Regions from separate parts of the Homo sapiens genome. Here region 1 is linked to region 2. The links come from fine-mapping of genetic effects on gene expression. Tissue or cell type: whole blood. Region 2 holds a variant in brackets; the other region holds the start of a gene. All regions are shown on one strand. Distances are between the middles of the regions.

Region 1 (8,082 bases), 49 kb after region 2:
TCTCCTCCATTCCCTATGGGTTCTGTGACCACTGCTGGACCAAGGACGTGGATGACCCTCCCCTAGTCACTCATCCATCCCCTGGCTCCAGAGATGGTCACATGACCCAGGCCTGGCCAGTCAAAGTAGTCTCTCCCCTGGCCACAGTAATTGGTCATGTGATGCAAGCCAGCTTACTAGCACTTTGAGAATGAGTCTCCTGTTGAGCTGGTAGGATGTAAGCCTGGAGCTAATGGCGATCATCTTTGCCACCACCTGGGGAGAGCCTGCTTGGGAATGAAATTAACACAAAGGAAGTCCAACCTGAGAAATGGCCAAATATATTTCCTGATAACATTATGTGGCCCTCTGGATCCAGCCATGCCTGAGGTCTACCCCTGGGCTTTTGGATTATGTGTACAGTTGGTTCATCCCTTTTTCTGCTAATTCGAGTCATGGCTAATTTAACACCCTTTAGAACCTTAAAGAACCATCAGCATCACCCGGGAACTTTTTTAGAAATGCAAAATCTCTACTGCTTTGGATCCTGGGTCAAAAAAAAGAAAAAAAAAAGAAATGCAAAACTTTAGGCCCTGCCCCAGATTTACTAAATCAATCTGCAGTTTAACAAAATCCTCAGGTGATTTGTATGCTCATTGAACTTTAAGAAGCAGTGTTTTAGAACAGGTTCTTAAAAAGGAACAAATAAACTCATTTAACTAAAGTTAACTGATTAAAGAGGATTTGCTAGGGTATTCTTTCCACATCTGTTTGCTTTCTCTGGGAGAATAAGAAGTCATAAGTCAAAGAAAAGCATCTCTCGTGGTGAAATTTCAATCCTCAGGGATAATTAGTTACTGTAGTAACCTCATCACTGGTTTCCAGTCTTGTCCCTCTCCAATTTACCCTCCAAGCTGTGGCCAGAGTGACTATCCTGAATTGCACACCTGCCAAAAAGTCTTAAGTGTCTCCCGGTGGCCTATGGGACAATATCCAGCCTCCCTGGCCTGGCTTCCAAAACCCTACACAAACTGTCCCACTTTCATCTCCAGCCCCTTTTTCCACTCTCCCCCCAGCCTGTGATTTTAAGCTCCATCACACTCTACCTCTCTCCACATAGAACCATGCCTCTAAGCCTTTGTTTATGCTATTCCTTCTGCCTGGAATGTCCTTCTTCCTCTCTGACAAGTGCACACCTACCCATCCTTCAGTCCCCAGCTCTAATGCCCCATTCTCCAGGAAGTTTTCCCCCAGGCAGAAGGCACAGCTCTCTCTGGGCTCCACAAAGCCCTCAATCCCAACCTTAATTGGAGCACAGCACACACCCTGTTGTCATTTTCTGTAGGTCTGTCTCTTGCACATGTCTGGGATCAACTTGAAGGGCAGAGACCAGGTTTGAGTTATTTCTGCATTCCCAGCACCAAGAACAGAGCCATCTCCAGCCTCAGTTCCCAAACCTAGGCTAGAACACTTAGCTCTTGGCAGCAAGTTAAATGGACTGACTGGCACCTTCATTCTCTCGACTTCTTTCTCTTCAAGAACCCAGGGCTATTGGGAGAGCAGCCCGTGTCCCACCCACTGTCATCCAGAAGTGAAAAGCTGGGGACAGTTTAGGCCCTAGATAGTGCTGCCACAGGGCCTGGGCTGTGGGAAACAGGAAGCATTAATTGACCAGAGGAAGCCCCACCCTGGACTCAGCCTCCCTCAGCCATCCAGCACCCAATCCTGCCCTGGACTCACGTGCCCAGAACATCTCGGAAGTCGTAGATGTCTCTAATGTCCTCCGCCTGCTTCCACCTGGGGCCTTCCACTGCCCCCAGCATGGCCCACTGCCCCCCGACCACAGCCAGGGCTCCTGTAAGGAGAATGGAAGGAGGAGACTCAGCAGAGCCCAGCCCTCTGTCTGGGAATTTACTGCAGGCCCCATTCAGTCATTCAACCTGCATTTATTCATCCTTGATTCATCCATTTGACAAAATCATTCAACAAACATTCATTTGTTTATTCAACATTCAGCAAATTCTCATGCCTAGAGAAAAACCTTTCACAGTGGCAGCAAAATTCTTTATTTAACAAAGTCATGCATTCATTCATTCATTTATTCTAGTTCTCTTCCCAGTTTTCCCCCTATCCAAATCCAAGCACCTAGGGAAACCCTGACTTCTGGCAGTACAACAGATAAACCCCCAGAGCAGCTGGTAGAAGCCTGGAGGATCCCCCTGTCCCCAGAACCAGTGATGTCCCCGCCCCACCCTGGGGATTGCTGGGGTGTCTCCTTTCCCTCCTCCTTCCCCCGACTCCCCGGCCTCTCCGAAATCAGGTTTCCAGCAGCCTGGGCTTCCAGCAACATCTCAGCCACATTTTTAAATAGCTCTTTCTGCACTGTTACCACAGCAACAACAGCCACAGCTGGAGCTCCCCAGACCTCTCCCTCCTGACTCCCCATCTGGGTCCCGGGAGCATGAGAAATGGTCCTGCTCACTCTGTCCCTTCCTGGCCCCATCTAACCCTATCCAGCCTGGCCCTTCCTCTGCTGAGGTCTGTCTCATCCAGCAGGAGAGGGTGGGAGTTCTCTCCCATTTATCAGATGAAGAATGGGGAGACTGAGGTTGGAGTTAGGTAGAGGCTGGCTCCAGAGGCCCTAATGACACCTGGCCTGGGGCCCCCAGCTAAGCTTGCTGAGGGCAAAGGCCATCGAATGGCCTTGGCTGGTACTTCCAATATGAAGCCAGAATGGGCCCCATTCAGAGAACACAGCCTCCCAACCCATCCACAGATGAGGCCAAAACAGAGCCCAGCATGCTTTGTGACCTCAGGGAGAGCACTTTCCTTCTCTCTTTTTCTCTAAGGGAGAATGAGGAGAAGGTGCCCTGACTAGGGCCTCTGGTGTGAGATTCCACTCCTGGAACAGGACCTTTTTCCCAGGGGACCCTGCCCACCCATCCAGGGGCAGAATCTTCTAGGAAAGGAGACTCGAGTGTAAGCTCTAGAGGCAGAGTCTGAAACCCACATGGAGGCCTACCAAATACAACCCTCACAGATCCACACACATCCCTGTAGCAGACATGCCACACCAAGCCCCCTCCACAGCCCTGAACTCAAACACCTGCCTCCCAGATCCAGTACGCCTTGTATCCACATCCCGTGACACCTGATCATACATGTACTCCCAGACATCAGCACACATGTCCACACCACACAGTGCCCCAGACAGCCCTGCACCCGAACACCTGCCTGTCCATCCAAACATCCCTCACCCAGCTCCCTCTTACACCCCAAAACACACATCCACCCGCACCCACACAAGATGACACCCAGACACACACACACACACCCTCATATACCAGACGTACCCTACACCCTCCAGCTCCTCTACCCCATCCCCTGGAAGCTCCTGTATTCCAAACCAAACCCCAAGTCCTTACACACCTAACTCCAAACATCCTCAGTACACAATTGTACACCCCCTCCTAACTCTGACTTAAGACCCTGAGAGCCAAATACCAGCACACAAAACACGTGGACACCCCTCTGGAACAAAAAACACACAGATTCCCAGATCCTCCACCCATGTCTGACCCACACGCCTGTCCTAAGACAGTACACTCCGCAAGCCCCCCCACCCCATGGATACCTCCAAATGCCCACGCCCTTCCAGTCAGGCCCAGCTGAAGGCGCTCACACAGGCCCCCTTCTCTATTACCCACTCAGTGTCCCATAGGCCCGCCTGGCACCTGCTGGGCCTGGGACAGAGGTGGAGAAAGGCCCAGCCCTGCCCCTCAGGGTCCAGCCCGCCCGGGAGAGTGCCCAGTGGCCACTCCTTGGGAAAGGATACCCAGAGGCTAGGGGCTCCCACCGCCCCCACGCAGCGCCCAGGGGTGCAGGGATGGGGGGCCCGGCTGTACCTGCGGCTGCCCCGCCGCGGGGCTGGCTGGGAGGCCCGCGGTGGTTGGCGCCGAGCTGTGGCCGCGGTCCTCACCGCTGCGTGCCTGGGCCACCCGCCCGCGCTCTTGCTGGAGCTGGGGCTCGGCTCGGCTCGGCGGCTCTCTCCGCCCGCCTGCGGCTCTGATGTCAGTGGAGGTGGAGCCTGCGGCGGAGGGACCCGGGATTGGGAGGCGAGGCACCGCTCCAAGGCTGGGGAAGGGGCACGGGTGGAGGCCATCTCCCTGCTTCTGGTCAGAGATCTCCTGCTGGACGCTTCCCGCCCTTGGTCTTAAGCGGGGTCCATTTCACAGAGGGGACAACTGAGGCCCGGAGAGATGATTTTCAAATCAGCGGGTGGTCGGAAGCAAAGCAGGATTCGAACCCCGTCTGTCTGAAGCTAGAGGCCGGCCAAACTCACCCTGTGGCCTGGTGGATTTTCTTTCAGACCAGTTCTGCGACCTCCCTTAGGGCTCTGTCTCCCTTCTCCGTGCCCTGAAGGGAAACAGGCCCTGGAACTGCACGGGAGTCTGGTGGGGGATGGGGGAGTGAGGGAGTGGGGAAGGACCGGGCAAGACTAGGCAATGAAGAGAGTGGAGGTGGTCGCAGGGTGTGGGCCCCACTTGACAGGTGGGAAGACTGAGGCCCCGGTTCCTCTGCAAGATGGAGCTGAGGCTTCAGCCCCAGACACTTGCTCCTCAGAGCGGGTGGTGGTGCCTAGAGGTATTGGGGGCAGAGGGAATTGGGGAGGAGGAAGTTAAATCGGGATCCTGAAGGAAACAGGCCAAAAAGGACCGAGGTGTCACGTGACTGGCGGGGCTCCAGAGTTTGATGGCTGGGGTCCAGGTTAGGGGAGAGAGCCTGCAACTAGGACGGCAGGCAAGAGGCCAAAGGTCGGTTTGCTCAAGGCCTTCCTTGGGAAGAAATTTGGTGCCGAGTGGAAAGAGGGGGCGGGGGGAGCAACTCGCAGGAATTGGGGATGGGGCTGAACTGGGGGCAGCCGGAGGAGGCACGTTGCTTGGGACCCCACTCCACCTCCAAGGGCCTCCAAGTGCCACTCCCTACTCCTGAATTCTTGCATGTTCCAGCTGGTGATGGGGAGAGAACAGTGCTTATGCCCAGCTCATTTCCTTTTTCTCTTTCTTTCTTTCTTTTTTCTTTCTTTCTCTTCTTCTTTTTTTCTTTTTCTTTTTTTTTTAAGACAGGGTCTTGCTCTGTCACCCAGGCTGGAGTGCAATGGCATGATCACGGCCCACTGCAGCCTCAAACTCCTGGGCTCAAGTCATCTTCCTACCTCAGCCTCCCATGTAGATGGGACTACAGGTGCGTGCCACCACACCTGGCTTTTTTATTTTTTGTAGAGATGGGGATCTCACTATATTGCCCAGGCTGGTCTCAAACTCCTGGGCTCAAGCAATCCTCCCCAATCAGCTTCCCAAGGTTCTGGAATTACAGGCATGAGCCACTGCACCTGGCCAATTTATTATGCCCATCTTACAGATGAGAGAGGAAGATAGCTGAGGTTCCTGGAAAGGCTTTGGAGTCTAACTGATCCTGGTCATGCTTTACCTCTCCGAACCTCAGTTTCTTACTCGGGAACATGGGAATATTGAAGATTGACTCAGAGTTCTGAGAATTCTATGATATAATGATATGAAGTGCCTAGAACACTATTCAAAACATGAGAGCTAGACTCAGTGTAAACTGAGACTCAGAGAGAGGACTTGATTTGGCCAGGGATGAGGGGTTAAGGGATCCATCTTCCAAATCTCAGTATCTCAGACTCCTTAGTTCATGGAAAAATACATTTCCTGCTCAGGGCTGAGCCCCCACTCTCCCCTATACCCACCAAGCACACCCACTGAGCTAGGGGTTCTTTTACCACAAATTCCTGTTCATCTTGATGACAACACCCCCTGGGTGATAAGATGACCTCTGTCCTTTCGAGGACTTGTACAACTTCTTTTTTTTTTTTTTTTTTTTTTTTTTGAGACAGTCTCCCTCTGTTGCCCAGGCTGGAGTGCAATGGTGCCATCTCGCCTCACTGCAACCTCCGCCTCCTGGGTTCAAGCAATTCTCCTGCCTCAGCCTCCCAAGTATCTGGGACTACAGGCGTGAACCAACACGCCCAACTAATTTTTGTATTTTTAGTAGAGATGGGGGTTTCACCATGTTGGTCAGGCTGGTCTCGAACTCCTGACCTCAGGTGATCCACCTGCCTCAGCCTCCCAAAGTGCTGGAATTACAGGCATGAGCTACCGCGCCCAGCTGACTTGTACAGCTTCTATGGTGTGCTTTACATTTTTCCTGCTTTTGAGCATTTCTGAGAGGCCTCGTGTTTTCTTTTCTTTAACAAACACATTATCTTTACTTTCTTAGTATTTCTATTGAACAAGTGATACATGGTCATTGCAGGAAAATTCCATAATGTATTGAAAACACACACAGACTAACTGATGAGATTCTTTCGCTTCCCAAGTGACAGAATGCCAACCTAAACCAGCTTCATCCAAGAGGAATCTATAGTTCACAATAGCTGGCACAAGATTGCAGGAAAAACACCAGAGATTAGGGGCTTGGAGACTGGAACTGGAGATGTAGTACTCATAGGATTTGCTTTCTCTGTCTTCCCTCCTCTCTCCTTGTCTTGATTTTTCTTCACACGTTGGCCTCTTTTTCTCTCCAGAGTGAACTTCTAGTTGGCAGGAAACATGGAGTGAGGCAGCCCCAGCTTTCCAATTAAACACAGTGGAAGGAAAGCATCCTCCCAATTTCCTATCTCATTCTCAGGGAAGGACTCTGGCTCTGCTTGAGTGATAGAGTGACATGTTCACCCCTTGGCCTCCAAAACTGTTGCCAGGAGAATTAGGGTGCTATATTGAGCAAGTGTACTGTAATGGGCAGCCATAAGGAATGGAAGAGGTATCTTGTCCAAAGGAATTAGGGGTGCGAGGGAGGCAAGAATAACACAACACTCTCAGCCGGGCCCCCACCAACCAGAGACAACCAGTGTTCACATTTTTAGTACAATTCTTCCAGATTTTTTGGATGCGTATACATATACATCCTTCTGCAGCCCCCAGTCCCGATGAGCACATTTCAAAGTACTAATCAAAAAGTGAGTGAAGGGCCAGGCGTGGGGAGGCCAAGGTGGGCAGATCATCTGAGGTCAGGAGTTTAAGACCAGCCTGGCCAACGTGGTGAAACCCTGTCTCTACTAAAAATACAAAAATTAGCTGGGTGTGGTGGCATGCACCTGTATCCCCAGCCACTTGGGACGCTGAGGCAGGAGAATTGCTTGAACCCAGGAGATGGAAGTTGCAGTGAGCTGAGATTGCACCATTGTACTCCAGCCTGGGTGACACGGCAAGACTACATCTCAAAAAAAAAAAAAAAAAGTGGCTGGGTGCGGTGGCTAACGCCTATAATTCCAGCACCTTGGGAGGCTGAGGCGGGTGGATCATGAGGTCAGGAGATCGAGACCATCCTGGCTAACATGGTGAAACCCTGTTATCTTTTGTATTTCTACTAAAGATACAAAAAATTAGCCAGGCGTGGTGGCGGGCGCCTGTAGTCCCAGCTAATCAGGAGGCTGAGGCAGGAGAATGGCGTGGACCCGGGAGGCAGAGCTTGCAGTGAGCAGAGACCACGCGCCACTGCACTCCAGCCTGGGCGACAGAGCGAGACTCCGTCTCAAAAATAAATAAATGAATAATAATTTAAAAAAAGGTGAGTCAAGGAAAGTCAAATGTTCTCAGGGAAAAGGGGGATGATCTTTTCTTCTTTTTTTTTTTTTTGAATGGCTAAACAGTGCAGACATCTCCATCAATTCTTTTATTTATTTATTTATTTATTATTTTTTTGAGACAGGGCCTCACTCTGTCACCCAGGCTGTGGTGCAGCGGCGCCATCATGGCTCACTGCAGCCTTGACTTCCCAGGCTGGAGTGATCATCCCACCTCAGCCTCCGGAGTAGCTGGGGCTGCAGGTGTGTACCACCATACCTGGCTAATTTTTTTTAGTTTTTTATTTTTTGTAGATATCGGGTCTCTACTCCCTCTGTTGCCCAGACTTCTCTGGAACTCTGGAATCAAGTGATCCTCCTGCTTGGGTCTCCCAGAGTGCCGGGATTATAGGCGTGAGCCAGTATGGCTGGCCTCCATGAATTCTTGAACCTGACAG
Region 2 (8,103 bases):
TTTTTTGAGATGGCGTTTCACTCTTGTTGCCCAGGCTGAAGTGCAATGGTGCGATCTTGGCTCACTGCAACCTCCGCCTCCCAGGTTCAAGCAATTCTCCTGCCTCAGCCTCCCAAGTAGCTGGGATTACAGGCATGCGCCACCACGCCCGGCTAATTTTTTGTATTTTTAGTAGAGATGCGGTTTCCCCATGTTGGTCAGGCTGGTCTCAAACTCCCGACCTCAGGTGATCCACCCTCCTCAGCCTCCCAAAGTGCTGATTACAGGCGTGAGCCACGGCGCCCAGCCAAATGGGGATATTAATCACTACTTCAGGGCTATAGTAAGGGTTAAATTAAATGACATATAATACACCTGCCACACAGTAGGCATTTAATTCTGTTACCTAAAGTGTAGTCCATGAGCCAGCAGCATCAGCATTACTTGGGAGTTTGTTAGGCTCTACCCAGACCATCTGGATCAGAATCTGCATTTTAACATGAGCCCCACGTGATCCATATGCACATTACTGTTTGAGAAATAGTGATGTAATAATCATTAGTTCCTCACTTCTCAATTCATCTGCTTCCCCAACAGGACACAGCTGAACTTCACAGTAGCCATTGACTTCACGGCTTCCAATGGTGAGACACGGATGAGTGAAAAAGTCGGAGGTGGGAAGGCACTTCTAAGGGAGTCATTAGGAGTTGGCCTGGATTCCTACCTAGAGATAAGAGTTTACCTACCCAAGAAGCCCAAACTTAGGCAAAACCCAGCCAGGAAAATAGAGTGCAGAAAAATAGATGGGTAGATGGATCATAGAGGGTTGAAAGGATATATAGCTCAACAGGTGGATGAGTAGGCTGATGGATGAGAGAGAAAGGGGGTATAAGGAGAGATGGAGAGGTGAACAGGTGGTGAGTCATGAATGGATGCATAGATCCATGAACAAATGGAGTGGGTACATGGGTTGGTGAGTATAATAGGTTAGACAAGTAGATGCATCGATGGGTATGTGGGTGGACAAATGGACTAAAGTTTAAGTTGGGGAAATAACAAGTAATTAGGGGAAATGCATGAGTGGATAGATCCATATGAGAATAGACAAGGGAATGAATGGAATGGAGAGGGCTGGCTAGCCGGATGGATAAAATAATACTGTTGTATAGATGGGTGGAAAATGAAGAAAAATGGCAAGTAGACAAGTGGGTGGATGGATGGATGGATGGATGGACTGATGGATGGATGAGTGGGTAAGTGGATAGCTGCATAAGAGAATGGAGAGATTGGTGGATAAAGATGTATAAGTAGACTGAAAGATAGATGTATGGCTAGGTAGATGGGTGGATGGATGTGTGGGTAGGTAGGTAAATGGATGAATAGATATAGGGATGGGTGGGTGGATAGATGGATAAATGAACAAATGGATGATTGGGTAAAATAAGGAGGGAGGACATGGGTAGAGGGCAGATAAATGGATATAGGTGGATGAATGCACACAAAGATAAGCAGGTGAACAGATGGATGATCCAGATGATCATGAGGCTGGGGTTCCTGTGTCCCTACAGGGAATCCTCTGCAGCCTACCTCCCTGCACTACATGAGTCCCTACCAGCTCAGCGCCTATGCCATGGCCCTCAAGGCAGTGGGAGAGATCATCCAGGACTATGACAGTGATAAGCTCTTCCCAGCTTATGGCTTTGGGGCCAAGCTGCCCCCAGAGGGACGGATCTCCCACCAGTTCCCCCTGGTATGGTATTGGCCAGAGCTTACCCTCCGTGCCCTGGCATCTGGTTCACCCAAGTTGATGATTTTGTTCTGTTTACATTACTTCAAAGGGCATGTAGAGGAACAGGAAGCTATGAGAGGATAGCAGAGCAGGGAGGGGAGCAGGGCTGGGTTTGGAGGGGAGCATGAAAGGGACTGATGGAAAAAGGAAGGAGTGAGCTGGAATCAGAGCACTCCTGCATGTACCCTGCATGGGCTCAGCCTGGCAGGGCATATTCTTTGACAGAACAACAATGATGAGGACCCCAACTGTGCGGGCATCGAGGGTGTGCTGGAGAGCTATTTCCAGAGCCTGCGCACAGTGCAGCTCTATGGGCCCACCTACTTTGCTCCTGTCATCAACCAAGTGGCCAGGTAAGGGAACTGGGTGGAAGCTGGGGGAAATGAGGGGACCCACATAAGGGATTGACCCCCCAAGGATAGTCAGGAGCACTCTAAGTAATTTAGGATGATTTGAAGTAAACAGGAGAGGCCAGGCATGGTGGCTCATACCTGTAATCCCAACACTTTGGGAGACTGAGGCAGGAGGATCACTTGAGCCTAGGAGTTCAAGACCAACTTAGGCAATTTAGTGAGACCCCATCTCTTTTTTTTTTTTTTTTTTTTTGAGACAGAGTCTTGCTCTGTTGCCATGCTGGAGTGCAGTGGCATGGTCTCGGCTCACTGCAACCTCCGCCTCCCAGATTCAAGCAATTCTCCTGCCTCAGCCTCCCAAATAGCAGGGATTACTGGCGCATGCCACCACACTTGGCTCGTTTTTGTGTTTTTAGTAGAGACGGGGTTTCACCATGTTGGCCAGGCTGGTCTTGAACTCCCAACCTCAAGTGATCCACCTGCCTCAGCCTCCCAAAGTGCTGGGATTACAAGCATATGCCACCATGCCTGGCTCATTTTTTTAAATTAAATATTTAAATTAAAAAAATTAAAGTATACAGGACGATGTGTATAGGTTATATGCAAATACTACACCATTTTATATGACGGACTTGAATATCTGAGGAGTTTGGTATCCACAGGAGTCTTGGAACCAATCCCCCGTGGATACTGAGGGATGACTGTACCTTATTATGCGGCACAAAGGGTGTCAGCAAATTACCCTAACCCCACTGCCTGAGAATGACAAGCTGGGGCTTGAGTTTGGGTAAGAGAGAGAAGAGCCTACAGCACTGTGGTGAAGGCGTACGTTTTAGCATCAGATCTGAGTGGGATCCTTCCTCCACCATTCACTAACCATCTGACCTTAAGCAACTTCGCCTCTTTAAGCATCCATTTCATCCCTGTAAGGTGGTGTCATAATGGATGACAATAGCAGCTTCCTTATAGAGTTATTGCAAGGTTAAAATTAGATAATAGTGTAACAAGTATTAGCACAGTGTCTGGCCCATGGTACATGCTCCATAAATGATAAGTTAAAAACTAGATGAGTGACTGTCCAAATTTTCAGAATAAAACTATACAAAGCAGGCCAGGTGTGGTGGCTCACACCTGTAATCCCAGCACTTTGGGAGGCCGAGGTGGGTGAATCATGAGGTCAGGAGTTCAAGACCAGCCTGGCCAAGATGGTGAAACCCCGTCTCTACTGAAAATACAAAAATTAGCCAGGCGTGGTGGTGGGCACCTGTAATCCCAGCTACTTGGGAGGCTGAGGCAGAGAATTGCTTGAACCTGGGAGGCAGAGGGTGCAGTGAGCCGAGATCACACCACTGCACTCCAACCTGGGCGACAGAGCAAGACTCTGTCTCAAAAAAATATATATATATACATATATATATATATGCACACACACACACAAACCAAAGAAAACCCAGATCATACATCAAATGGCTTAAAAAACCAGAGGGTATTAAAATAAACTTAAAACGAATTTATGAAATGACAGAACTAAAATCAAACATATGTCAATAAACATAAATAAGCTCTGTTTGACCTTAAAAAAGAAAAAGATTATTTGATTGAACAAAAAATAAGCAAACCCCACTTTATAGTAAACAGAAGAAACCCAGCTAACACAAAGCCCCTCAGAAAGCTCAGAAGTAAAAAGATTAAACAAAAAGGGAATAAAAGTGAAAGGATTTCAGTGAGATTTATATGTCCATAGACTTTTTCCCCTAGCGAAGATTTGTTTTTTTTTTAACTTTCCTTTTAAGTTCAGGGGTACATGTGCAGGTTTGTTACATA[AC/A]AAACTTGAGACATGTGACACATGGGGGTTTGTTGTACAGATTATTTCATCACTCAGGTATTAATTCTAGTAGATTTATTTTCTAATTTGCAGTAATGATAATAGATTCTTTAATCATAACCGTAGAAAGTTTCAATAGAGAAATGAAGAAATCACCCTGAATACTGCCCATGGAATGTGGATGTATATACAGTTCTTTTCCTTATGTATCCATAATTATAGTCAAATTATTATACATATAACATTTCACTACTGATTTTTTTTTCACTAATACTGGAACCTGAGCATGTTTTTGTTGTTATTAAGCTGACTTCTTAAATATTATCTTATGCAACTACACTAATTCAAAATTTATTCATTCATTTAGTAAACATTCAGTAAAGGGGCAATGCACCATTGAGTGTGGTGTCCGGAGCCAGACTAGCCAAGTTAACACTCTGGTTCTATCACTCACTAGCTGTGGCTTTGGTCAAGATTCTTAACCTCTCTGCGCCTTATTCCTCATTTGTAAAATGAGGAAAGTAACAATGTCTACTTCATAGGGTTGTTGTGAGGACTAACTAATTAATATATGTCAAGCACCTAGAACAGTGCCTGCCACATCATAAATACTATAGGTGTTCGCTATTACTGTTACTATTATTATCATTATTACTATCCAAAAGGCATCTGCTGTGTGCTCAGTTCTCTGCTGGGGCACTGAAGATTCACAGATGAATCAGATCTAGTCCCTCCCCTTGGGAGCTCCCGCCTTGGTGCAGGAGACAGAAATATAAATAAATCATTACCTTCTGTAGACCAGAGCTTCCCAGACTTTTCTAGCAAGTCGCCTGTCAGCAAAGGCAAGCGACAGCGTCCCTCTGGGGGAATCTGGGGGCATAGCTGAAAGCAGTCAGGCTGAAAATGTCTTTGAAGTTTCCGTATTTCATCTTAAAAATTCATGCAAATTTTATATTCTTCTCACATTGCATCCCTGTTTAATTTAGAGAAAAAAGGTGTTTTAAGTACTTATAGTCTTATGTACTTATAGTCATCTAGCTTTATCCAGCAGATCATGCAGTGAGAACCCACTTAGAGGAGCAGACAGCCCATCTTGGTGGGTGGAGCAGTATCCTAGAGGGAGGGGGTAGGGCATAGGCTCCAGTACCATAAAGGGGACTGCTCAGCTGGGTCTAGAGGACGAGGTAGACTTTATGAGAGAAACAGAAGCAGAGTAGGCCTGGTAGAAGGAATGGCATATGAAAAACAGAGGCATGAAGGGGCAAGTTCATGAAACAGTGAAGAGTTTAATATGACTAGAGTGCGCACTGTGTACAGAGGACTATCCAGATAATGGACTGGGGATAGAGAGTGAGAGAATCAAGAGCTCCAGCTTCAGGCTCAGCTGGTCAGGCATGGGCTTGGACCCCAGCTTCATAACCCCTTGGGGATGTTACTTAATGTCTCTAAGCTTCAGGTTCCTCATTTTAAACATAGGAACTGTTTTTTGTTTTTAGTTTTTTTTTTTTTGAGATGGAGTCTTACTCTGTCACCCAGGCTGGAGTGCAGTGGCACGATCTCAGCTCACTGCAACCTCTGCCCCTGGGTTCAAGCAGTTCTCCTGCCTCAGCCTCATGAGCAGCTGGGATTACAGGTGCGCACCACCATGCCCGGCTAATTTTTGTATTCTAGAAGAGACGGAATTTCGCCATGTTGGCCAGGCTGGTCTCGAACTCCTGACCTCAGGTGATCCACCCCCCCCCGCCACCCGGCCTCCCAAAGTGCTGGGATTACAGGCATGAGCCACTGTCCCCGGCCATAAAAATAGGAACTTTTAAAGCGCCTACCTTATAGAATGGCGGTGAGGATTAAATTAGATCATGTATGTCAAGTGTACATCTGTGATTTTGATGATCACAATGGACTCTGCTGTTTCCCACTCTACAGCCAAGTGAGGCATAGACTGGCCTCCTCTGGCCACTCACCCATTTTCTCAGCTAACTTCCAGATAAAAACAGCCTTGAGAATGCAAGGCATCTACAGAGAACCAAAGATGTACCTCCTGTGCCCCCAAACCCTTCCATGATGCCCATTGTCTTCTACAGTTCTTTTTTTTTTTTAAGAGACAGGTTCTCACTGTGTCACTCAGGCTGGAGTGTAGTGGTACCATTACAGCTCACAGCAGCTTTGAACTCCTGGGCTCAAGCGATCCTCCCTCCCACCTCAGCCTTCCAAGTAGCTAAGACCACAGGTGCATGTCACCACGCCAGGCTAATTTTATTATTTTTTCGTAGAGACAGGGTCTCGCTATGTTGCCCAGCTTGTCTCAAACTCCTAGGCTCAAGGGATCCTCTGATCTCAGCCTCCCAAAGCATTGGGATCTTAGATGTGAGCCACCAGGTCCAGCCTCTCCGCTGTAGTTCTACATGTAACTCCTCGTGGTTTGCACTTGCCATTCTCTTTCTCTGGAACACTTTTCCCTTTACCTTCCCACCACCATCACCACCTGGCTAAACCCAACCCATTTTTCAGGTACTTAGGTTAGATGTTACATCCTCAAAGCCCTAACCTCAATACACTTTAGTAGTTTAATCCTCTCTCTCCCCAAGGACAATATCCTATTCTGCTCCATGCTCAGCACCCAGCGTGGTGCCTGATACACAGTAGGTATGCAATTGCTATTTATGAAATGAGTAAGTGACAGGAAAAGGTACCAAGCCAGGTCTCTGAGGAGGCTGGGGCCAGAACTCAGGAAGTGGGTAGGGGATGTAAAGGAGAATCATGGCTGGCCACAGTGGCTCATGCCTGTAATCCCAGCACTTTGGGAGGCCGAGGCGGGCGGATCACTTGAGGTCAGGAGTTCAAGACCAGCATGGACAACATGGTGAAACCCCGTCTCTACTAGCAATATAAAAATTAGCCGGGCATGGTGGTGGGCGCCTGTAATCCCAGCTATTCAGGAGACTGAGGCAGGAGAATCCCTTGAACCCAGGAGGCAGAGGTTGCAGTGAGCTGAGATTGTGCCATTGCACTCCAGCCTGGGCAACAGAGCGAGACTCTGTCTCAAAAAAAAAAAGAAAAAAACCAGGATCATGACCCACTCCCACTCTGGGCCCTGGGCAAACTGAGCCAAAATTATTTTATTTTATTATTTTACTTTTATTTTTATTTCAGTTGGGGTCTTACTCTGTCTCCCAGACTGGAGTGCAGTGGTGCCATCATGGCTCACTGGGCTCATGCAATCCTCCTGACTCAGCCTCCTGAGTAGCTGAGAGTATAGGCACGCGCCACCAAGCCCAGCTAATTTTAAATTTTTTCGTAGAGACCAGGTCTCACTATGTTGCCCACGCTGTTCTCAAACTCTTGGCCTCAAGTGATCCTCCTGCCTCAGCCTCCCAAAGTGCTTGGATTACAGGCGTGAGCCACCCCACCTGTCCCCAAAGCTATTTTATAATTCTACACCCTCTCCATGCCTTTCCTCACATTTTGAGATCAGGTTTCAATACAGTACTGTCCAATAGCACTTTCTGCAATGATGGAAAAGTTCTGTATCTGTGCAGGCCAATATGGTACTCACCAACCACATGTGGATATGGGGCACTTGAAAGTAGCTAGGGTGGCCAAGGAACTGAATGTTTAACTCTATTTAATTAATTTAAATTTCAATAGCCAAGGCTACCTTATTGGACAGCCACAGCTCCATCCTTTCCAGTCCGCACAGGACTGGAGACTGGAAGTCAAGAGACCAGGGTCTCCCACTACCTTTGTGCCCTCTCTAGGTCTTTTTTTTTTTTTTTTTGAATATGCAAAATAAAGGGACTGGACTCAATGACTTCTGAAGTCCTTTTCAGGTGGAAAAAAAATCTTGGCTTCAAAGACTAGTGAGAGAAGGAAAAGGAGCTCTGGAAGCAGCTGTTAGATTGGCAGGGGGAGGACTGCATGGGGCCCAGCAGCCCAGGCGATGAGATGTGGCTGGCAGAGGGGAGAAGGGAGAGAGAAGAAATGTGGGGGAGAAGGAAGCAAGGAAGCCTTCAGCCTTTGCTCTCGCTCATATATAAACATCAAAATCTTGCCAGGGGTTGATAAATCCCTGAGCGGTCTAAGCTCTGTGCTTCTTCAGCCACGTGGCCCACTCTGCTTCCCTCAATTTCTGACCTCCACACAGGGGAGTTGTTCTT

Evidence for each region. PIP is the estimated chance that this variant, and not a neighbour inherited with it, causes the effect.
Region 1: CAMK1 starts here. The variant in region 2 is fine-mapped to the expression of CAMK1 in whole blood (TOPMed, PIP 0.97).

The regions. Positions count from the first base shown.
Region 1 is chr3:9,765,948-9,774,029 of GRCh38, forward strand. CAMK1 (calcium/calmodulin dependent protein kinase I) reads right to left here and starts at 4,000. Exons shown (of 12, transcript NM_003656.5): 1 at 3,885-4,000; 2 at 1,720-1,834. The coding sequence starts at 1,802. It also overlaps a transcript of OGG1 not described here. RefSeq lists a silencer at 3,771-3,950.
Region 2 is chr3:9,716,482-9,724,584 of GRCh38, forward strand. It overlaps CPNE9 (copine family member 9), which reads left to right. Exons shown (of 21, transcript NM_153635.3): 15 at 577-623; 16 at 1,548-1,729; 17 at 1,994-2,121. Among named protein-coding and RNA genes, the nearest start is that of BRPF1, 11 kb to the right of the region's middle. The variant AC/A (reference allele first, on the strand shown) is at 3,946.